Linked DNA regions of Homo sapiens: regions 1 and 2 are each linked to region 3. The links come from fine-mapping of genetic effects on gene expression. A gene starts in region 3. Each other region holds a variant in brackets. All regions are shown on one strand. Distances are between the middles of the regions. Region 1 overlaps ATP13A4 (ATPase 13A4). Region 2 has its middle 11 kb from the start of OPA1. Region 3 holds the start of ATP13A4 (ATPase 13A4).

Evidence for each region. PIP is the estimated chance that this variant, and not a neighbour inherited with it, causes the effect.
Region 1: its variant is fine-mapped to the expression of ATP13A4 in whole blood (TOPMed, PIP above 0.99).
Region 2: its variant is fine-mapped to the expression of ATP13A4 in whole blood (TOPMed, PIP above 0.99).

The regions. Positions count from the first base shown.
Region 1 is chr3:193,430,538-193,438,728 of GRCh38, reverse strand. It overlaps ATP13A4 (ATPase 13A4), which reads left to right. Exons shown (of 30, transcript NM_032279.4): 23 at 145-254; 24 at 2,985-3,081; 25 at 4,812-4,884. Among named protein-coding and RNA genes, the nearest start is that of ATP13A5, 56 kb to the right of the region's middle. The variant C/A (reference allele first, on the strand shown) is at 4,110.
Region 2 is chr3:193,577,952-193,586,142 of GRCh38, reverse strand. It overlaps a transcript of ATP13A4 not described here and the pseudogene EEF1A1P23. Among named protein-coding and RNA genes, the nearest start is that of OPA1, 11 kb to the left of the region's middle. The variant AAGTG/G (reference allele first, on the strand shown) is at 4,439.
Region 3 is chr3:193,551,145-193,559,335 of GRCh38, reverse strand. It overlaps ATP13A4 (ATPase 13A4), which reads left to right and starts at 4,441. Exons shown (of 30, transcript NM_032279.4): 1 at 4,441-4,596. The coding sequence starts at 4,537. It overlaps ATP13A4-AS1 (ATP13A4 antisense RNA 1), which reads right to left and starts at 6,123. Exons shown (of 2, transcript NR_121666.1): 1 at 6,049-6,123; 2 at 3,752-4,566.

The sequences.
Region 1 (8,191 bases), 120 kb after region 3:
ATGTTCCAGGCAGGGTTAAGTCTCTTGGTTAGAGTTTGGGCACACAAACCACCTTGTGGCCAGCTTAACTGGCCTTTTCTTATGAGGCTTTAGTAGAGACGTACGTGAGTCTATGTGAGGAGTAAGCTGATTCTTTGCTTTCAGGCTCTGAAAATGGCTCATGTGGGCATCTCATTATCAGAGCAGGAGGCATCTGTGGCCTCACCTTTCACTTCCAAAACTCCAAACATTGAGTGCGTACCTCACCTTATCAAGTAAGTAGGCACTTCCTCAAACATTGTTTTCTCTCTCTTGACTTCTGGTGCAAATCACATTGTTCTGCCTGGGAAAGACTAGAGAAACTTTCTGTCCCTGGGTGCGGAGGGTGTTTTGTGGAAGAATGCAGTCAAGCATTCTACTTCCAAATGGATTTTCCAGAAGTTAACAATAACATTGGGAGAGCAGTGGCATTTCCAGTGAATTCACTGATTAGGTTATTTTTAGAAGATTGGAATCTGGAACTTGTTATTGCTTTGAAAGTGTCAATCATCCCCATTTTTCAAATGTAACTATCTCCTTTTCAATTTTTATTTGAAAAATAAAGTTTTCAAAATCTTTGGCCGGGCGCAGTGGCTCACGCCTGTAATCCCAGCACTTTGGGAGGCCGAGGTGGGCAGATCACGAGGTCAGGAGATTGAGACCATCCTGGCTAACATGGTGAAACGCCGTTTCTACTAAAAATACCAAAAAATTAGCTGGGCGTGGTAGCAGGCTCCTGCAGTCCCAGCTACTTGGGAGGCTGAGGCAGGAGAATGGTGTGAACCTGGGAGGTGGAGATTGCAGTGAGCCAAGATTGTGCCACTGCACTCCAGCCTGGGCAACAGAGCAAGTCTCTGTCTCAAAAAAAAAAAAAAAAAAAAAAAATCTTTATTGGCTTTTGCTGCTCTCACTAAAATTTGCTTTGATGTCCCCCACCACCCTGCCGAAAATGTACTTCTGCTCCATTATATTTGAATGATAGAGATAGTGAGCATGGTGGCTGCTCTTGGTTATTGTAACTGACATGTGTTTCTAGTTTAAAAATGCTATAATGCCTACTATCTCACACTTCAAAACAGCCTGGAGATGCAGGAATGGCTATTTTTTTAACAAACAAAACAATTGAAGTTCAGAAAATTTAATTGATGTGCCCAAGCTCATACAACCATATGAGGTTAGAGATTGTCTTAGAATTAATTTTATTCAAATGTATTTTATCTACAGATATACTATTTCCACCACATAAAAATAATAATTTGGCTAGGTCCTCCCAATTTTTTATTTATTCATGCATTTGACAAATCTTTAGTGAGTAGGCATTTAGTGCCAGAAACTAAGGGAGATAAGGATGATACCTACTGATTTTGATAGGTGCTGTCCAGGAAATAAAAAGGGTAAAAGGGAATAAGATGGCTATATAGGTGGAAGCAGCTGCTTCAGATGGGGTGGTATGGGAAAACCTCTCTAAGGAGAACCTCTCCTTATTGCTTAGAGAACCTCTCTAAGCAATAAGGAGAAACTACCTCTGGGCAGAGGAAATGTCACGGCAAAACTCTGATACAGAAAAAAACCTGGTTTGAGGATCAGGTTTTTTTTTTTTTTTTTTTGAGACGGAGTCTCACTCTGTCGCCCAGGCTGGAGTGCAGTGGCGGGATCTCGGCTCACTGCAAGCTCCGCCTCCCGGGTTCACGCCATTCTCCTGCCTCAGCCTCCCAAGTAGCTGGGACTACAGGCGCCCGCCACCACGCCCGGCTAATTTTTTGCATTTTTAGTAGAGACGGGGTTTCGCCGTTTTAGCCGGGATGGTCTCGATCTCCTGACCTCGTGATCCGCCCGCCTCGGCCTCCCAAAGTGCTGGGATTACAGGCGTGAGCCACCGCGCCCGGCCCCGGGGATCAGGTTTTAACACCCTAGGACATCATAGTGGGCATGAGTTTAAACTTAAAGAAGTATGATCTAGGCTGGGTGTGGTGGCTCATGGCTGTAATCCCAACACTTTGGGAGGCCGAGGTGGGTGGATCACTTGAGGTCAGGAGTTCGAGACCAGCTTGGCCAACGTGATGAAACCCAGTCTCTATTAAAAATACAAAAAAAAATTAGCTAGACCTGGTGGAGCATGCCTGTTGTCCCAGCTACTCAGGAGGCTGAGGCGGGCGAATCACTTGAACCTGGTAGGCAGAGGTTGCAGTGAGCTGACATCATGCCACTGCACTCCAGCCTGGGTGACTAAGCAAGATTCTGACAAAAAAAAAAGTATAATTTAAATTTAAAAAGTGTAACTTAAACTTTATTTTTCACCGAATGAAATAGAAGATAAAAGTGACATTTCATGTGTCATCTATTTCATGCTTTAAATGTGTACTATTTATTCAAATCAATCAACAATAACACAAATGAAAATGCTCATCATTTCCAGCCTATTTCAATTTGATATATGACTAATTTGAGTGTGTATTGTTTTGGTCCAGTTTTAGAAAAAGTTGGGACTGCCAAAATGAAATTTGAATCAAATGCTTGCCAAGCTCCTGAAGCTCCTGTATGAAAATAACCCCTGAATCTGGAATTTTATTTAAATCCATTAGTTCACAGATGAAGAAACTGAGACAAGGGAAATGATCTTCTGCATCTCATTAGTGAATAGGTAGAAGATCTGGCACTAGCTCCACTGATCTGAGTTCAGGAGCTAAAACAATGCCTGCTGAAAGGACAAGAGCAACTGTAAATCTGGACTCCATCACCAGATCAAGGCCCTTGGACCTTGGCCTGGAATTGGCCTTTCTTGAAAATTGGGTTGTGTAGTTTACTGACAGCCAGCATCCATGAGCTCAGGGCTGTCCATTTTCAGACAGACAGTCGTATAATGACTTTTGATTTTTTTTCTCCTGAGCTTAGCTGAACAGCACAGAATGACTGACCTTATGTCTTTTCATTACTTTCATGTCTTTATCATTTCTTTTCTTACACAGGGAAGGACGTGCAGCTCTCGTTACCTCCTTTTGCATGTTTAAGTACATGGCTCTGTACAGCATGATTCAGTATGTTGGTGTTCTGCTGCTCTACTGGGTATGACTTGGGACTTAGCCTCTTGGTTAGTGTGAACTAAAACAAGTAGCGGTGCACTCTCAATTTACAATGCCTCTCAAAGAAAGAGTACAAATAGGATATCTGAACAACAACAGCCCCTCCAAAAATATCCTTAAGAATTTGTAAAGTAAATCACAAATAGACAGATTTGTACAGGAAAAGTTGCTGATGTCAATTCTCTGATGTAGAAACCTTTTATCTAGTAATAGCTGAAATCACCACTGAATATATTGCTGCTACTTTTACCTGATTGGACAAGGTCTTTATCTTCTTAATTGCAACGTGGCTCTACCCTAGTCTACCACTCACTAAAGAAATGGTTCTCTGCATTGGGGTGTTGCTAAATGCTTCATTTAGCATGAAAAAAAAGACCTGATTATTAATGTTTGCCCATTTCAGTGGCGTAAATACTCCTACCATAACCAGTTGCAAGCTGTCTGCCTATTGTCACTGAACATGAAGTGGGGAAAGATGTATAGTAGCATATGATTCTATAATACTTGCCCCATATAGATACAAGAGTCGTAAATAACCTTAAGGGCAGAGATAGCAGTAAAATGTAGAAAAATATTTAGAAATAGCTGAGCTTTGAGTATTTATTAACTTTGGTTTTAGTATAATTTATTTAATGGTACACTTGTATAATTTAAGTTTTTGTATTGGCTTTGTTTAACAACCAGCTCACAACATCTCTGAAAATTTAGCAATTGACTTTTAAGTGTTAGTATAAGCCAGCATGCCACTGGTTCCCTGAATATAGGGATGTGAAAACTGGCATATCATACCACAAAAATACATAGGTCTTGTGATCACTTTTTTTTATTTACCAAGATATAAAAAGAGAAAAAAACATGCACATCATCTGTGAACTCAACATGTGAGATTACCGTATTAACCAACACCAAGGAAAGAAAGTTCGTCTGGATATCTGTGTGGCAGATATCCAGATTCATCTTTATATACTGCCTTCTTTTTCCTGGGTTAAAGATTTTAGTTCTATTGCTCTC[C/A]GATAAACTATATCTTTTCCTACTCACTGATAAATGGGCTAGAGAAGGATAGGCTATTTCTGGAAATTGGCCTCTATTTTAGAATTCCCAAATTATACTCAAAAGTAGAATTAAACATTGAACATTATCTCCTTTCCACTAAGGGGTGGGGAGCAAGAAAGTGAGTGAGTTTCTTAAAATCAGTAAGACATAGCACTTTTTCCTCTAGACTATTAAGATGTTTTGCTAGGATTTTCTAAAATTTTGTCTAAAAACATTCAAGAATGCAAATAGTGAGTTTACTTATTCTTATTTTCCATCAGTAAAACTTATGTAAGGTTACCACACATTTGTCACTTGGGGATGTATTTTTTTATTGTGTGAAATGAAATCCTAAATTTTCTGTTAACAAGTAGAAAAGAGAGCAGAGATGAATCTGGTAGGGGAAGATGTCCTCCTCAACAAAGTAATAAGGATGCACAAACAATCCCACCCTGAAAGCACATGATGATAGGCCCCCTGCATAGAGAGGGTTTCACAGGTTTGGCTTTGATTACTTCCACCAACACCATCACTCACCAACTCAACCAGGCCCCGAACACAGCATCTCCACAGTAATTTACTTGAAAAACCCTATGTCACAGTGAGAAAATAAATGTAATCAATATCTAATTTCATCCAGAAGGTCACAACTTTTTTGATCTGCTTTCTTTTTATTTTCAGGAGACAAACAGCCTTTCAAATTACCAGTTTCTGTTCCAGGATCTGGCCATTACAACTCTTATTGGTGTAACAAGTAAGACATTTTAAAACTTTCTTACCAGAGGTGCTACCCTCAGCTGCCCTCCCTCTGCCTTGGAAAGATTTGTCTACCATGAGGAACAGCAGCTGCAACAGCAGCAATGATCTGGAATTTATTCCCAAATATATACACAGAGAGGAAATAGAATCCTCATTTTTAAGTATTGCAAGAAAGTATTAGCAAAAGAAAAGCTTGCTCGTTATTTTGCTGTTTTCTGCAAAATGTGGAACTTCTATAAATGGTCACTAAACACTTAAAATGAAAAAAGCAGCTTGAAAATCAGGAACACTAACTTCAGAGTGCTTTTAGATACAGTTATAGTTAAAATGTACCCAATTTATAGGAGCCAAATGGCTTTTATATTTCTCATACCTAAATCTTAGCCTCTCAGGATTTAGAATGAAGCTTAAAGGTAATCTTGCCATTATACCTCTCTTACCCTCCACCTTCTAATGAATAAATTGTCTCCCTAATGTTCCTGCAATGGAAAATTTTTTTATTTTTGACTTTATTCTTTTTTAGGGCTGTCTTAGGTTCACAACAAAAATGAGAGGAAGGTACAGAGATTTCCCATGTACTTCCTTCCCAAACACATACATAGCCTCTGCTACTATCAGCGTTCCTCACAAAGTGGTATATTTGTTGTAACTGATGAAATTCTATTGATGAATGATTGAAGTTTTGACATGTCTTTGTTGTTTTGCTTTTGTCTTACTAGCTCAGCTAAAGGAAAATCTCAACCAACATTCATGTTGAAACTAATTCAGTCATCAATTGCAATCATAGGTTGATTATGGACACAAGAGTTTGGCAAAACTCAATGAAAGCATTTCGTGAGAAACAATTAATAATAACATCATTATTATCCAAAGTCCATCGTTTACATTACAGTTCATTCCTGGTCTTGCACATTTTATGGGTTTGAACATATGTATAATGACATGTATCCATCATTATATTATCACACAGAATATTTTCACTGCCCTAAAAATCCTCTGCTCTGCCTAGTCATCTTCCCCACTTCCCCAAAGCTCCTGGCAACCACTGTGATCTTTTACCGTCTCAGTAGTTTTGGCCTTTCTTTTCTTTTCTTTTCTTTTATTATTATACTTTAAGTTCTAGGGTACATGTGCACAACATGCAGGTTTGTTTGGCTTTTCTAGAATGTTATATAGTTGGAATCATATATAGGCTTTTCAGATGGGCTTTTCTTCACTTAGTAATATGCATTTAAGGTTCAACTATGTCTTTTCATAGTTTGATAGTTCATTTCTTTTTAGTGCTGAATAATACTCCATTGTCTGTATGTACCACAGTTGATTTATTCATTCACCTACCGAAGGATATCTTAGTTGCTTCCAAGTTTGGGCAACTGTAAATAAAGCTGCTATAAACATCCGTGTGCAGATTTTTGAGTGGAAATAAGTTTTCATTTTCACTGGGTAAAGGATTATGTAGTAAGAATAAGTTTTGTTTTGTAAGAAACCTCTAAACTGTCTTTCCAAACAGCTATACTAGTTTGCATTTCTACTACCAATGATTTAGAGTCCTTGTTGCTTCACATACTCACCAGCATTTAGTATTGTTAGTGTTCTGGATTTTGGCCATTCTAATAGGTTTGTAGTGGTTCCATTTATGCTTTTACTCCTACTTCCTCCAACCTTCTCAAGGATTTTATTCGTCTAATAATCTATTTCTCCATTATTATCAACCTTTCTCTTGTTTACTAGATCATTCCCAATGATGGCATATAATACATTCTCATATCTTCTTTCTTTTAAAAATTCTTATTTGACCCTGAATCTACCACCAGCTACTGCCTCCTTTATTCTTAAACTTCCCAAACAGTTATGTATACCCACTTTCTCCATTCTCATCCCTAATTCTACTACCATTCCATTTCCATTAGCCAGATTCTAACATCCAGGGGCATGAATTTGAATTTTGGGCTTATGCAGTTGTTCAGTAGGAGGCAGTGGTATACTTGCAAATGTTTAACATGTTGCTCCCCAAAACAGTTTGAATATACATATATATTTACTTGTTTTCATATATATAATGGAAACATATATATATATGGGAAACATATATATGTGTGTATATATAAATATATATAGAAACATATATATGTGTGTATATATAAATGTATATATACCCACATATACACATACACACCCATATATATTTGGAAGCATATTTATATATAGTAAACACACACACACACACACACACACATGCATATATAGAAACAAGTAACTTTACTGAAAAGAAATGTGTAGTGAGCAATTTGCAAATATACTTGTTCTCTAACTTTTGGAGTATTTCAAGTCTTGTTCTTGGATCCGCTGTCTTTTCAGCCTATACCATCTCCATAAGTAATCTCAACCAGCCCCATGACTTTAATATTATCTATCTGCTGATGAATCCCAAATTTATATCTCCAGCCTTGATGTCCATCCAAAGCTCTGGAAATGTAGCTACTCTGCATCTAACCATGGGTATTTAATAGGAATTAAACTTCACATTCTCAAACAGAACTCTTAATTCCCCCAGATCTGATATTCAATATAATCATTATGTACTTACTGAGTCCCTAGTTTGTGCTACTTACTGATCTAGGAACTTAGAATAATACATCAGTGAAACAAAACAAGATTTCTTTCCTTATGGAGCTTACATTCTACTGGAATTGCACTGTTATCTACCTAGTTGTTCAAGTCAAATAACTAGAGTCATCCTTTATTTTTCTTGTTTCTTCACCCATCACATCCTATACATTTGAAATTTCTGTTAGCACTGCCTCCAAAACGTACTGTGATTCCCCCCCTCCATTTTCAATGTAGCCGCCATCATTAGTCACTAAGCAATGCCAGCTCCCTTGTGCATTACTGTAACAACTTTATAGCTGATCTTGCTTCCACTGTTGCTGCCCTCTCCTCATTCCCATTTACACAATAGTAAGAGTATTGTTTTTAAATATAAATTTTATTATTCATTCTCTTGCTTAAAATGCTCCAATGCTTCCCATTTTGACTCAATTCAAGTCTTATATGATTGGGCTCCTGACTACTTCACCAACTTCACCTCTACCCACATTGCCACTCACTGATGTGACTGCTGTACTGGTCTTACTGTCTCTAGTACATTGTCAAGCTGTGGTCAACTCAAGTACCCTTGCATTGGCTATTCCTTTTGCCTAAAATACTCTCCCCTTGGATCTTTATATGTCTTTGACTTTTTTCATTATTCATATTTGAGCTCAAATGTCACTTCTTCAGAAAGATCACTTTAATAGTGAAGA
Region 2 (8,191 bases), 27 kb before region 3:
AGGACGATATGCGTGTGTGTGTATATGTGTGTGTGTGTGTGTGTGTGTGTGTATGTGTGTATACATATACAGATATATATATATTTTATATACATATTTGGCCAATGAACACAAAGTGCTCAATGTTATTAGTCATCGGAGAAATGAAAATTTTGTCGAGGATGTGGAGCAACCAGAACTGTCAATAACCGATGGCAGGAATGTAAAATGGCACGACCACTTTGGAAAAATATTTGGCATTTTCTTATAAAGTTAAATATACACTTCCCCTTTGGTCTAACCATTCCACTCTCAGGGATTTATCTAGGAGAAGTAAAAACGTGTTCATGGAAAGTCTTGTACAAACATGTTCATAGCGACTTTTTCACGGTAATTGAAAACTGGAGCCAAATGAAACGTGCAGCAGTGAGAAAATGAAAGGAAATTTACACAATGAAATACTCCTCAACAACAAACAGAATGACCTGCGGATACATGTAACAACACGAATGAATCTAACAGACGCGCTGAACTCAAAAAAGAATGTACCATATAAACATTTAGAACAGGGGTGTCCAATTTTTTGGCTTCCCTGGGCCACATTGGAAGAAGAATTGTCTTGGGCCACACATAAAATAAACTAACAATAGCTGATGAGCTACAAAAAAAAAATTGCAAAAAACCCACAAACAAACCTGATGTTTTTTGTTTTGTTGTTGTTGTTGTTGTTGTTATTTTCTTTTGAGACAGAGCTTTGCTCTTGTTGCCCAGGCTGGAGTGCAATGACGCGATCTCAGCTCACTGCAGCCTCTGCCCCCTGGGTTCAAGTGATTCTCCTGCCTTGGCCTTCTGAGTAGCTGGGATTATAGGTGCCTGCCACCACACCCAGCTAATTTTTTTGTATTTTTAGTAGGGATGACGTTTCACCATGTTGGTCAGTCTGGTCTTAAACTCCTGATCTCAAGTGAGCCACGAACCTTTGCCTCCCAAAGTGCTGGGATTACAGGGGTGAGCCACCGTGCCTGGTCAAAACTGATAATGTTTTAAGAAACAGTAACAAAGTTTGCGAATTTATGTTCAGCTGCATTCAAAGCCATCCTGGGCCGCATGCAGCCTGCAGGCTGCAGGATGGACAAGCTTGATTTAGAGCATCCATTTATATGATGCTCTAGACCAGGAAAAATAGATATGGAGAGTGGGGAGGAACATTGGGGAACTTTCTAGAAACATGGGAACATTCCATATCATGATAGAAGTCTCAGTTACATGAACACATCCATTTGTCAAAATGTATAGCGAAGATTTGTTCATTTAAAATTGTAGATTTGCATGTGTACATTTTACATTAAAAAGCTATGAAGAATGATTACATGAGGAGGATGGGAAGTGGGTAGAGGTTAGATGAAGCAAGAATCACAAAATGTTAATAACCATGGAAGCTGCCCAGTAGGTATATGAGAGTTCATTATACTTTTCTGTTCACTTTGCATGTATTGAAAGTTTACATTAAACATTTTAAAATGTATCTTTTTTTGTTAAAAAAAAAAATAGAAGAAAAGTGAAATGGACCCAACAGAAGGCAGCCTCATTAGTATAGAGATGAGGAGCAGAAAATGAGCATAACAGGCAAAGAGCCTTGTGTGCTGTGTAGAATTGATTTCAGCTGGTATTCGTTTCCTATTGCTGCTGTAACAAATTACCCCAAATTAGTGGCTTAAAACAGAACAAATTTATTATCTTATAGTTCTGAAGGTCAGAAATAAGAAATGGGTCTCTAGGGAAGAATCCTTTTTTATTTTTCCTTCTCCAGTTTTGAGAGGCCACCCACATTTCTTTGCTTGTGTCTCATTTCCATCTTCAAAGCCAGCAGTGACTGGTCAAACCTTTCCAACACCACATCACTCCAATGCTAATCCTTCCACCTCCGCTTTCCACATGTAAGCATCCGTGTGATTTGATCAGCCTACCTAGATAATCGAGGATAATCTTCCTATTCTAGGGTCAACTGGTCAGCAAACTTAATTACCCTTTGCCACATGCACAGCTTCTGATTAGGATTCAGACTTCTTTGTGGGAAGCGTTATTCTGTGTACTACGCAGCTCCAGTGAAATTATTTTAATGATTTCTTTCTGATATGGAGTGTGTGAGTGTGATGGGTTGGGGAAAGGGGAGGAAAGAATCAGTTTATCCAGCCACACCTGAAACTAGCTGTAGTTTTCAAATTGTACTTCTAATCTTTGTTTAGAAATCTTCTATATTTATCATTTTTTAAAAGAACAATTTTTATACCTTTTCTGCAATCTACTGCATGTCACAAATTTCATTTTGTTTTGCAGTGACACTTTTGCCTTTTCCTGCTTTTTAAGTAGTTTTAAGGATTTACTCTTGAATTATAAAATTTGAAATATTTCCTTTACTTATTTTTATTGCTTTCTGTGCTTGTATCTTAGAGGTCAAGCTTCTTTCATTGTATTGAAATGCCAACTTATTGTCTGATTTTTTTTCTTGTCCCTGTAATAAATTCAAAGATACAATCTTCCTTTGGATCTTTCTACTGTAACAACTATTATGATTACATGCATAGTAAATACTGATTTAGTGTACCAGGTACTAGGCTACATCTCTGCATATGAGATCTCCTTCTATTATTTGATACAATATTTTTTACAGCTATCATCTTGTTTTTTCTTGTCATCTTACTATTTATTTATTTATTTTATTTTATTTTTGTTTTTCGAGATGGAGTCTGTCTCCCAGGCTGGAGTGCAGTGGCATGATCTCGGCTCACTGCAACCTCCGCCTCCTGGGTTCAAGCAATCCTCCTGCCTCAGCCTGCTGAGTACCTGGGATTACAGGCGCCCGCCACCAATCCCAGCTAATTTTTGTATTTTTAGTAGAGACGGGGTTTCGCCACGTTGGCCAGGCTGGTCTCAAACTCCTGATCTCAGGTGATCTGCCTGCCTTGGCCTCCCAAAGTGCTGGGATTACAGGCTTGAGCCACTGCACCCAGCCCCTTCTTTATTTTTATGTAGTAAAGTACGTATTGACCATAACTATGCCCTTCAATTCTGCTCCACAGTGATTATTCCTTTATGATACTGGCTAGAGGGTTTTCATTGTTATACATATATATTTTTTATATCTATATAATATACATATATATATTTTATATATATGTAATATACATATATATATTTTATATATATGTAATATACATATATATTTTATATATGTAATATACATATATATTTTATATATGTAATATACATATATATTTTATATATGTAATATACATATATATTTTATATATGTAATATACATATATATTTTATATATGTAATATACATATATATTTTATATATGTAATATACATATATATTTTATATATGTAATATACATATATATTTTATATATGTATTATACATATATATTTTATATATGTAATATACATATATATTATATATGTTATACACATATATAATATATATGTAATATACATATATAATGTATGTAATATACATATATAATGTATGTAATATACATATATAATATACATGTAATATACATATATAATATATGTAATATATATTATATGTATTATATATAATACATATAATATATGTAATAATATATAATGTACATATATTATTAATGTATACTTATAAGTATATACATGTATATATTATATGTACATGCATATATTAAAGTATACATATGGCCAGGTGCGGTGGCTCACGCCTGTAGTCCCAACACTTTGGGAGGCTGAGGCGGACGGATCACAAGGTCAGGAGATGGAGAACATCTTCGCCAACGTGGTAAAACCCCATCTCTACTAAAAATAAAAAAATTAGCTGGGCGTAGTGGTGTGCGCCTGTAATCCCAGCTACTCTGGAGGCTGAGGCAGGAGAATCATTTGAACCCTGGAGGGGGAGGTTGCAGTGAGCTGAGATCATGCCATTGCACTCCAGCCTGGGCCACAAGAGGAAAACTCCGCCAAAAAAAAAAAAAAAAAAGAAAAGAAAAGTATACATATGTAAGTATATATGTGTATATTATATATATATATATATATATATATGGAAGTCTTTTCAGGTATTTTAGTAATTAATTAGAAAATCTGCACCAGGGACTGCTAATCTAATATGTTATTGACTGAGAACATGTGACCCCATTGTCAGCATTCACACTGAAGCCTTGCTTCAGCTGTACCAACTGCTGAAGTGAGATGCATTCTCGGTTTATGTTATGTTTTCCAGACTTCTCTTTTCTGTCCTCATCGAAAAGACAGCCAGCTTTTGTAACCTTGCCTTGGGGATGTTAGCAGGAGAAATGTTGGCAATTCAAGGCTCTTCTGGTTTTATAAGAAAACCAGATTTTGCTGGGAGGCCTGGAGTAGAAGAGAGGGTCTTGGAGAAGCAAACATGGGAGGAGAGACATTCCCAGAGATCAGGAAGAGGT[AAGTG/G]TTTTCCCTTAAGTGTCCCTTCCTAACACTCTCTTGAGAGGTCTCAGGCGCCTCAATAATTCCTGCCACCTAAACAGAATCAGATTCATCAGATTCAAAGGGATTAGGAATGCTAGGAATTTGGGGGACTTCAGAGATTACCTGTGACTACTAAGCATAAGGAATTATTTTCTAGGCACGTGGTTATCACGTCCATTGCATTTGTATGGTGGAAACGCTATACATATAATGAGGTGCTATTGCGCCTCTCTTTCTAACTCTGCGTTCAGTGACATGTTGCTGGTATAGCTTGAAACTAGTCATGGTGGCAGTATTTCCACCATAGAAATCAGCACGCACTACAAATCAGGGCTTGATTTGTTTTTCGTTGATTGTCTAATCTTAAGAAAGTGATGGAAAAAAATAACACTACAGATTAAATTTTAAAGTGTGTTCTGTCTGTGGTTTTACATTGTGAATAACATACATAATTGAGACAATATTCTTTCAGTATTTGAACACTATTATCTAATTCAGTAAAGAAGTCTTGCACATCATCATTAATTTAAATTTTCCTAATGTACATCTTCATTGTTTTACTTTTCTCTTACTCACTAATGTATCGGAAAATACAACCCATATTCATGTCAGAGCTAAACTCATAGGTTAACGATGTGAGCAACTTCTTTGTTGAAATAGATAGGATTGATAGTAATGAAGCATTTATTCATAGTAAAATGTATAAGAAACTTATGCATATGAACACATCATTTTTGGAAGAGCCAGTTGTTAAACGATTACCCATACACCATTGTTTGAGCAGCACAACACTGCTTTTCTTCACTCTATTTCAACCTTCCCATCATTAAAAGCTTTTGCAATTTAGTTTTTTCTTTCTGTTTTGAAGTTTCTATGCCTCTTACAATTTATAATCTTTTAAGCCAATGTCATGTTCAAAACCGTACCTTTCCTTTCCTCCCCGCTCACCGGTTCTGAGGTTTTTCTCCCCCTACTCGCAGGTATTTTTTGCTCCACACTCTGGTTCATTTCCTCTTTGCTTCTGTTTTAGACTAAAAACATAATCCCTACCTTCATTCTATTCTGTAACTTGGCCTGTACAATAAAAAAATATATATACTAGGCTTTGAGTAATTCTGCATGGTGATTCTTCTTAGTAGTACGTATACTAGCTTGCTAGCACCCTCCTCTGTAAGAGTGAGTTGAATTGTGTGCCTTGCAGAAGGACCAGCTCCCACATCTTTGCTGCTCTTTGTCACAAGCTGTTGACAGTCTCCTTTCTCTCTCATACTTTGTATGGTCCTAAGAATCCTTGGTGGTAGGAAGGGCCAAGATAAACCAAGTTGAGGCTATATCCTGCTACAACTGCTATAATCCTGGTCCAACTCACAAACACCACCAGGACAATGGGACTTACTGTCTCCCAGTTTGGAGGCCCACCTAAACAGCAGTGGTGCTTGCATTTAGAGAAGACAAAATTAATCCACTTTCAGTAGTCAATTTACCAGGCTATATCAGCAGGAGAGGTTGTAGGAATCCACAGCTCTCAAGAAGCTCTTAATAAATAGATTGGATTCACATATTTATATAAAATAAACACACACGCTAGAACTTCTTCCTTTTTACTTTAACATATCCAGTTTACCACTTTGTTCCTTAACTGAAATAAAATTTAGGGTGAGATTTAGACAAGCAGAAAGAATGGGGAAGAAATACTGGAAGGATATGTGTGGTAGATTTGAGGTTCAATGCCATTTTAGGCATGTCCTTCTGTATCATTCTATTACCATGATGTTATGATATTTGCTAATATGTGTATCTCATTATAAAATTAGTTAACGTATGGGCACTTAGAGTAGTGCTTGGCACATAGTGTGCATTCAGTGATTCTATCAGTTGAGATAGAATGGGATATGCTGCTTGAGCAGGAGACGCAAGACCCAGGTTGTTCCCAGCTACACCATCTGAAACGTGGCTTCCAAGGTCACTTTGGAGAGCACGGATTGTCTGACATGATTTGTAAGGGCTGGCATAGAAATGACTTACTTCATTTCTCCCCACATCCTGTAGGCCAGAACCTAGTCATATGGCCAATTTAACCATAAGTAAAACTGGGAACAATAGTGGAAAACACAGAGTGATGTTTAGACTGCCTAACTCTGCCACCAAAAACACTACCTATAGTAAGAATAGGAATATATATATATATATTACAATACATATATATTCCCATTGCAGCAGGTTTGCTTCCAGAACACAGGTGTCATGAAAACCACCCCTAAAAGCCAAAATGGGAAAGAAAAAGACTCATATCAACATTGTCACCATTGGACACGTAGATTCGAGCAGGTCCACCACTACTGGCCATCCAATCTACACACGTGGTGGCATCAAGAAAGAACCACTGAAAAATTTGAGAAGGAGGCTGCTGAGATGGGAAAGAGTGTCTTCAACTATTCCTGGGTATTGGATAAACTGAATGCTGAGTGTGAATGTGATATTACTCACCATTGATACCTCTGTTTGGAAATTTGAGACCAGCAAGTGACTATCGCTGTTGCCTTAGGCCACAGAGACTTTATCAAAAACGTGATTACAGGGACATATCAGGTGGGCTGTGTTGTCCTGATTATTGCTGCTGGTGTTGGCAACTTTGAAGCTGGTATCTCCAAAACCGGACAGACCTGTGATCATGCCCTTCTGCCTTACACACAGGGTGTGAAAAAACTAATTGTTGGAGTTGACAAAATGGATTCCACTGAGCCATCCTACAGTCAGAAGAGATAGGAGGAAATAATTAAGGAAATCAGCATGTACATTAAGAAAACTGGCTACAACCCAGCCACAATAGTATTTGTGTCAGTTTCTGGTTGGAATGGGGAGAATGTGGAGTTCTAATGTCCAAGCATAGGAGAAGATGGGTGTCCAGCTCCTGGGAGGAGAAAGAGGGAGAGGAAGAAAGAGAGAGAGACAGACAGACAGACAGACAGAGGGTATGTTCCTTTCCTCTCCCTTTTTGTTCTGTCCAGGAACTCAGTGACTGGATGGTGCATGCCCACACTGGGTGAGGGCAAATCTCCCTTACTCAGTTACTGCTTCAAAAACCCGTCTCTTTCAGAAACATCCTCATGGATATACCCAGAAGTGATGCTTTACCAACTGTCATGGTGTCTCTTAATCCAGTCAAGTTGACACACAAAATGAATCACCACACTCTCTATAATGGGAGAATGACCTAATTTTATTTTTCATACTGAGAGAACCACCAAAATGGCAGCAGTTGCTTCCCAGAAACCAACTAAGTGAAGGTGTAGAGTTAAAATTAAGTCTATTTAAATAAATGCAATAGATAGATAGATAGATATAGATATAGATATAGATATAGATATAGATATAGATATAGATATTTCTGAGATGGAGTCTCACTCTGTTGCACAGGCTAGAGTGCAATGGTGTGATCTTGGCTCACTGCAACCTCCGTCTCCTCGGTTCAAGTAATGCTCCTGCCTCAGCCTCCCGAGTAGTTGGGATTACAGCACACACCATCATACCTGGCTACTTTTTGTATTTTTAGTAGATACAGGGTTTCACCATGTTGGCCAGGCTGGTCTTGAACTCCTGACCTCAAGTGATCCACCCGCCTCAGCCTCCCAAGTGCTGGGATTATAAGAGTGAGCCACCGCACCTAGCCCAAGAAATGCAATATTTATTATGCACTTGAGTTTGCAGTCTGAAAGTTGAGAATTTACTCC
Region 3 (8,191 bases):
GGCAGAGATATTGCACTTGTTTCAGGTTCCTCTCCATGGTAAAGACACATGACCTTGAACAGCTCTTTGTGACCTCTTTATGACTCAGTTCCTACAGCTTTCAAATGGGAGCAATGATACTACTCACCTCCCTACTTCACAGAGATGTTGCAAAAAACAATATTTGTAATATGCTGTGAGTTCTCAGATGAAAGATGGAAATTAACATATAATGAAACATTATTACCATTTATCATCACAAAACCTAAATGGGCCAGACAAGTGAAGCATCAGCATCCCCACGGCCCTGGCAGAGAAACCGGTCCTGCCATTATTTCCATTGGACATCTATTCTAGACAATCACAGAGGTTGAGAACTGCTCAGAACAACAGGCATGCTCCTAAGATAATCAAAAGCAAACCGAGATGCCAGATCAGCAGAGGTAGCTAAGTATTTGTCCTTTTTATTTTCCGTTCCCATTCTTATTTGGGAGAGAGTATTTGAGAAAAAATGAGTTCAGGGAGAGAATCAGAGAATGAACGAAGGTACTTTTCCTTTTGGACATTCCTCTCAATTCTGAGATATCAATATATGTGTATAATTTGTAGCCCCCAGAATGGGCTGTGTGCGAGCCCTCATCTGTGCTTTTGCTCTCTGTCTCCTTTGTTAATAATGCTTTCCTTTCCCACCTGTATTTATCTAGACAAGCATAAAACTCCTATCCTTGTGAGGGTTTCCTGGCCTAACTCCCTACTTGAAGTTCCTCTGTCACTCTTGTGTAATTAGCATATTATGTGGAATTTATATTTTGGTGTTGGTCTTGTTTCTTAATGGACTTAACTTTTCTGGGGCATAATTTATTAAATCTCTATTCTTCATCTATTACAGATCTGGGCATACTGAAGTTAATCAAACTAGTGCTAAGTGAATGAGTGAATGGAATCCTTCAGGAAAATGTCAAGATTAGAATTCAGACCACACCAAATCCTCATCTGCCATTCTTACTACGCCACATCACAACCCGTGAGGCACGTAGAGTATAGAATAGAAATATTGAACAGGCACAATTAAGGAAAGGGAGGGTGAATTCAAGAATAACTTTTCAAACAATGTTCCTAAGAGAAATAGAAGACTTAACTTAGAAGGTTCAAGAAAACTGTCTACATAAATACAGTATTGCATAGAAGGACTGAGTCGCTTTGGACCTGATTCCTATAATATGAGAGCACAGGCTGATCAGGAACAGTAGGGATATTTATGGAGTTCAGTTTGCCTTCCATGTTATTGTCACTCTGTGCACTAAGCTCAGACTCAGACCTGGCATTCAGGACCTCCATGCATGGCGTTGGTCCATATTTCCCTGCCACATGTCACTCCCCTCTTCTTCCTTCATGCAGCCCATGCTGCAGTGAGGCTGATGGGCTTGCTCTGAACATGACCATGTGTTTCTTCCTCTGATGATTCCCTTGCTTCAAATGCTCTTTCCTGCGGCCTTACTCTTTGTCCGAGCCTCAGCATCTCCACCTGTTGAAGCATTTTTGGCTCTTTCCAAGGCCTTTCTCAAAATGCTTCCTTCACAAAGAGGCTTTTCTGGTCATATAAATGCAAACCTCTTTGCAGAGCACTTTGGATGTGCCAAATAAATGTGTAGAAGAGGTATTAGTCCAGTAACTAGGATCACGGATTGGGAGAGCTGCATTGCCTAGGTCCGAATACTCATTCTGTCACTTACTAATGGTTTGAATGTAGGCAAATTACTTAATGTCTGCACCTGTGTTTCCTTGTCTGTCAAATAAGAATGACCAGAATAGTATCAACCACAGAGGCTTTTGTCAGGATTGTGTGCAACAGTGAGTGTAAACTGTTTAGAATTGTGCCTCATATGTGGAAGTGTTCTGTAAATGTTCTCTTTGCTTTCCCACACAACCTAGCCCTGTTTCTGGTTATGGTTATGTTTGTAGACCAAAATCACTAAATGAGGGTGAGTGCTGTCCATAAGCAGTGTTGCCATCGATAAAATCTAGATGTTTTACCAATAGAACTCCCAAGGAACCTGAGGAAACTCTCTCACTACTGGAGTCCTCAGCTCTATTGAACCAGGTTTGTGGAAAATAATTTTCCATGGACATCTGATTTTTATAAAAGCTTTTAATGTTCTTAAGGACTTACATATTTTCCTGTTCAAGTTTAGCTTAAATATTGTAGCAGCATGACCTGATTTATTTGATGGGGTAAGTTTGTGTACAGTTTCTCCTCTAGCTGTTAATCAGTTACACACTCATCTCAATCCCACAACGGTGCAAGAGTTGCCAAGTGCATTCAGGAACCCAGCCAAAAGGAAACTGCAAATATTGCCAGTGATAAACAGGAGAATGAATTACTTCTTTCTCACCTGCCCAGGAGCACTGATATAGTTTCACCACGTCACATACTAACACTCCTCAACCTCCATCAGTTGAGATGAAATTTGGAATATGCTTGTTTTATATTTTTTTCTGTACTAAATATATAATTACTGCCTAGTAAGGCTGTTAAATGTTCAGTTAGGTTTTTTTGAGGTATAATTTTTTATTGAGGTATGATTTTTAAATTTGTTATATCTCTTCATTGAGATATAATTCACATTTCATAAAATTCACCCTTTTAAAGTATAGAGTTCAGTGAGGTTTAGTATGTTCACAAATTTTTGAAGCCATCAGTAGTTCTAGAACATTTTTATTACCCCCCCCATAAACCCTTTACTCCTTATATTTTGACCTTGTGATAAAATGTTAATTTTATTTTCATTTATTTGGTTAAATTGTGCTAGCAAATTTTTGAAACCAAGAGAACTACATATATATATACACACACACACACACATACACACACACGTACATATATATTTTGTAATTACTATTACAATGGGTTTACTTAGCTTACTTTTTATGTTTATCCTATACTTCACTATTTGCTCAAGGTTTTACACATACAACATATACACACACACACATGCACACATTGATCTTGGTCACATTAGGGTTATTTGGGTCAGGTTGGAGATATCATTGCCAATGTAGCTTGAGGGACAGACAGTGGACATGGTGAAGGTAAAAATAACTATCTTTTGTGGAACACCTATTATTTCCCAGGCACTCTTTCTTAAAAGTCTGTTTTAGGACGTAGGTTCTATTATCATCATCTTTATGTTACATGTGAGGAAATAGAGGAGAATGGAGTTTGTATAACTTGTTATATCCCAAGGTAGCACAACGACCACCTAGTACAGTCCAAATTTGAACTCAGGCCTTCCAAATTTAGTGTATATGCCCTTAGCCACTATGTCCTAACACCTACTGTTCAAATGCACATTTAGTTTAATAATCCTAACAGCACTTGATCAGTGCTGTACAATGTACTTTCACAATGATCTCATTCCATTCTCTCAAAAGTCCTGTCGGGCGGTACCAGATGAGAAGAGCCGGTTCCTATAGTTAAATGATCACACAGCAAGGCCAGTGCAGACAAGCAGCTGGAATACAGGTATTTTGCCAGAGCTAGGGTAGGGGTGTGTTTCTCTACACCACATTGGGACTTCTGACAGTTTTCTTAGACTTCTGTTCCATCTCTTATAATAACAATCCACTTTCTATCATATTTGTTTGGATGTTTGAATCCTTACATCAACACGAGGGTAGCAAATATGACTTAACTTTTTTAGGTAGTCCCTGTGCTCAGGCACTGTTTATTGAATAAATGTGTAAACAAATTAAAAAAGAGTCTGGCCATATAGTCATTTGAATATTTTATTTCTAGACTTCCTTAAGTGTTGAACCATCAATATTTTAGTGAAAGGAGACTACATAGACTAGTTTGATGATACCTTTGTTCTTTTTCTACATGTGTTTCAAAAAAGTAAACTTAATTTCACATACACTTTAAATAGAATTTTTTTTGCATATACAAGGAAATGTGATTACAAATACCTTTTGAAGAGGATTAGTGATAATCTGTACCTTTTGTAAGCAAAATGAATGAGAGTACTATTAGAAACCTGTGGATTGAAGCTTTCATTCATCAAAGAAAATCTGCAGCTCTGTGCGCTTCCGCTCAACCCAATTCCTTAGGTCCTCTGAATAAAGCAGTGACCTGGGAGTTCTTGCACCCGCTCCTCACTCCTGAGAAGGGTCCTGCCAACTCTGTATTGTCCTGTTGGATTTGCAGTCAGAAGTCTGAGGCTGGCAGGCACTGGGCAGGCAATGAGTTCTTTCCCTGTAAGTTGGGCACAAAAAGATCGGCATGGGAGCAGCCTCCTTTGAGACAGCTGCTCTGAGAGAATGCAATAAGCAGGGAGCAGCCAGCAATTCCTCCTAGCAGAGGGCGACTCGTGGGAGGAGTTCAGTTTGCCAAGTATTGTCATTTGTTGAGAGAAGGTGTGTGCTCAAGGAGGAGTTTTAACCTGGAGGATCATTAACTCTTTTAGTCAGCTGAGGAGCTGCGGTGGCTCGGCGAGTTGGAGTTCATCCTGGAAGCGTCTGCACGACAAGGTCAGGGAGGAGGTGTGGAATAACTTTTTCATGGGACACTTTGAGAAGGGCCAGCACGCTCTGCTCAATGAAGGAGAAGAGAATGAGATGGTAAGATTCTAGCCACATTCCCTTCTTCCCATCCCACTTCTCAGCCTGCGAGACACACACACACACACACACACACACACACACACGCACGCATCACACACACACAGACTTTTCTAAAATTTCACTCTGGTATTACACGAGAAAAGGTCATGTTTGAGAAATCTCTCTATCCTGTAAATATAACCTCTGACAGCAGAAATTTGCTAGAATGAAAATATTGTATTCATCTTGTCAAGAATGTTTTCTTTTTAAAGAAAACAGAGAGGGAGAGAAGCACCATGCACTTTATGATTCTTGTTTGAGCCTCATTGGTATAGCCAGTTCTGTTCAAAACACCTAACAATTTTAGGAAATCCCTAATGTGAGGAGCAGTGTATTCCCTGATAGGAAGAAGCAGAAGTTCAGCAGTGAAGCAGAAGTGCAGCTGGGTCTTTGACCTTCTCTTCTCAAATGTCTTGTTCACCGAGTCTGTTGGACAGGGAAGACATGCAATATTAACAATTATCAGCCTACACACATTTCTGTTTTCTTCTAGAATTTTACTTTTGTGGCTTCCTCATTATAGAGATTGGTTACAGAAAACTTTCGGTAGTTCAGTATCTCTTTGATTTTAGATGTGCTTCTATCTTGAGAACTATAGGAAAATCAAAGATGACTTTCATGCTCAGGATGAATTTAAAACTGTATTTCTCAATTACAATATAATCAAGAGAGAGTTAGAAATATGTACTTCTGTTTAATAAGATCTTTCTGCTAATTGTGTAAGCATAGTCTTTTATGCCAGTAATGATGTAATTAAAATGTTAAAATGTGACGCTCTCATTCCATAATAGCATTTAATCTTCCTGGAATTAATATGTAAATAACAAACCTGAAAGATATTTACTTAAAATGTTTTCTTGGTTAATTGCTTTAGCCCTGACTATTACATTCTTTGTTCCTAAACTGGTCTTTCAAGTCTAATCTGCTTACCTGTTCCTATAGCAACAACATTTTTTGGACTTTCAAGAGTAGATCCCTTCTGCTATCAAAGCTGAAAAAATTATAAAGAAGTAAAATGTACATTAATTCAGGTGCCTTTCTTAACCATATCCTTTACTTCATTCAGATTTGACTGCCAAATGAATTGCCTTCAGCCCCTCCACAAATGTCACCAGAAATGGCTTGCTAGCCCACATTGGATATCATCTTTGTTTCTTTAAAGAGTTTTCTTTAGGAAGTGAATATCTCATTACTCTCGATATTAAGTTGAAAAGTTTATCTTCATCTTGAATACTCTTCACCAGAAGGCAGGGGCTCCTTCCTCTGAAACATTTTTTTTCTCTCTCATTTAGAAATACACTCACTCTTTTCCAGTAAACCCCTTTCTGCTCTCAGACAATTTGTCTTTCAAGTCTCAATAAGAATCATTTATTTTCCAGAAGACATTCATGGTTGTAGGGAAACTGTTACCTCTTCCCTAGCATACATATTCCACCAAAGCAATTTAGTTAACAGTTCATCTTCATAATGGCACCATCAGATGCATGGAGAACTCCACGTAGTTTTGTATGCAGCTGAAAGCCCAGTTAGGAGAGGCCCTTTAATATGGAAAGGGACACTGTGTTTTCTGGTAGGCAGCCATTTGGCCAGTAGTCTCAGCAGAGGTGCAGCAATTAGTATGCACTCCTGAGCTCTCCATCCTCTTCTGCCTACAGAAACCTGGCCACCTGCCTGTTGCTGTGTCTGACACTGTGTTCCTTTTTAACTCACTCCTCCATCCCTTGCCCAGAGCAGTAAACTTTAAAAATTATCAAGCTATATATATAGTCTACATATTTTGTAGTGATTTTTAGTATACACAGCATTTTCTTGGCCACTAGCTAATTTAGTTTTCCTCACAACCCTATGAGGTAGATGCTGTGATTCTAACTTTAAAGATGAGGAAATTGATGCACACAGGCTTTCCCTAAGGTTGCATCAACCAGTAAGTCCAGGAGCTGAGGCACCGCACAGGTTAGTTTAAGTTGACAGCTCTTTTGTCTCTGGACCTGAACATAGCCCACTGATACCTTTTCCAGTTCTTCCGGAGAACATTCCACTCTTAACAGAACACATTCCCTTCCTTCATAAAACAAAGCTAAGGAGAACATCAACATCCAGTCTTCTTAGATTCCCCAGCATCTGTTCTGTTATAGATAATTTGAGTTTCTTTTTTCTTCTAGATAATTCGAGTAGCTTAAATAAGTCTGTCTTCTCTGACTTCCAAGTCCAGAAATGTGTCACACCAAAGTGTTTAGTTTCATGCTTTATAATATACTTTACTTGAACCTTTGCAAACGTAATTTCTCTTGTGGTAGAAATTACTTCAAATTTCAAGAGAAAACAACATGCTAGGGTTTAGACCTCATGTCAAATAAAGAAGAATATTCTGAGGCCTAAAGATGCCTGGGATTATCTTCCATTTTGGAGTTAAAAAACCAAAAACAGGCTGGGCATGGTGGCTCGTGCCTGTAATCCCAGCACTTTGGGAGGCCGAGGCGGGCGGATCACCAAGTCAAGAGATTGAGACCATCCTGGCCAACATGGTGAAACCCCATCTCTACTAAAAACACAAAAATTAGCTAGGCAGGGTGGCGTGCACCTGTAGTCCCAGCTACTTGGGAGGCTGAGGCAGGAGTATGGCGTGAACCTGGGAGGCAGAGGTTGCAGTGAGCCAAGATCGCGCCATGGCACTCCAGCCTGGCAACAGAGCAAGACTCTGTCTCAAAAATAAGTAAATAGATAAAAATAAATAAATAAACAAGTAACAAACCAAAAGCAAACAGGAACTAAAGAGCAACCCTAGGTGACCTGAAAATAATATCTTTAACTGCGAAATGAGACAGGACCCAAAGGTAGAAAGAAGCTTTTGGAGGGAGAAGGAAGGAAAGGTGAGAAAGTGGCCTTCAGCGAAGGTTCACCTAAATGACTGCCTCAGAAAGGCTTCGAGGAGGAAACTCTGGGAGAGCACTGGGACGGGACGGGAGGCCTGGCTCTCACCGGCCTTGGGCCAGCCGCTTGCCTGCTCTAGCCTCAGTTTTTATACCTGTAAAATAGGACTGGTCCTTCTTACCCCCACCAGACTCACAGAGTTCTCATGAAGATCAGTGGAGATAATCCATATAAACATGTTTTGAGAAGTAAACAGTTCTGGCGAGGTGTGAGCTGCTATCATCTAAATAAAGGTAGGAAAAGCCAAGGGCTTAGCAATTAACCAATTGAGTAAATACTATCCCACAAAAATGAGGTCATCTCTTGCCATTCAGTTATACCAAAAGGAATATGTACTTTTTTTTTTTCTTTTTGTTACACGGAGTCTTGCTCTGTTGCCAGGCTGGAGTGCAGTGGCGTGATCTCGGCTCACTGCAACCTCTGCCTCCTGGGTTCAAGTGTTTCTCCTGCTTCAGCCTCCCGAGTACCTGGGACTACAGCTGCATGCCACCATGCCTGGCTAATTTTTTGTATTTTTAGAAGAGATGGTGTTTCACCGTGTTGGCCAGGATGGTCTTAATCTCTTGACCTTGTGATCCACCTGCCTCAGCCTCCCAAAGTGCTGGGATTATGGGCATGAGCC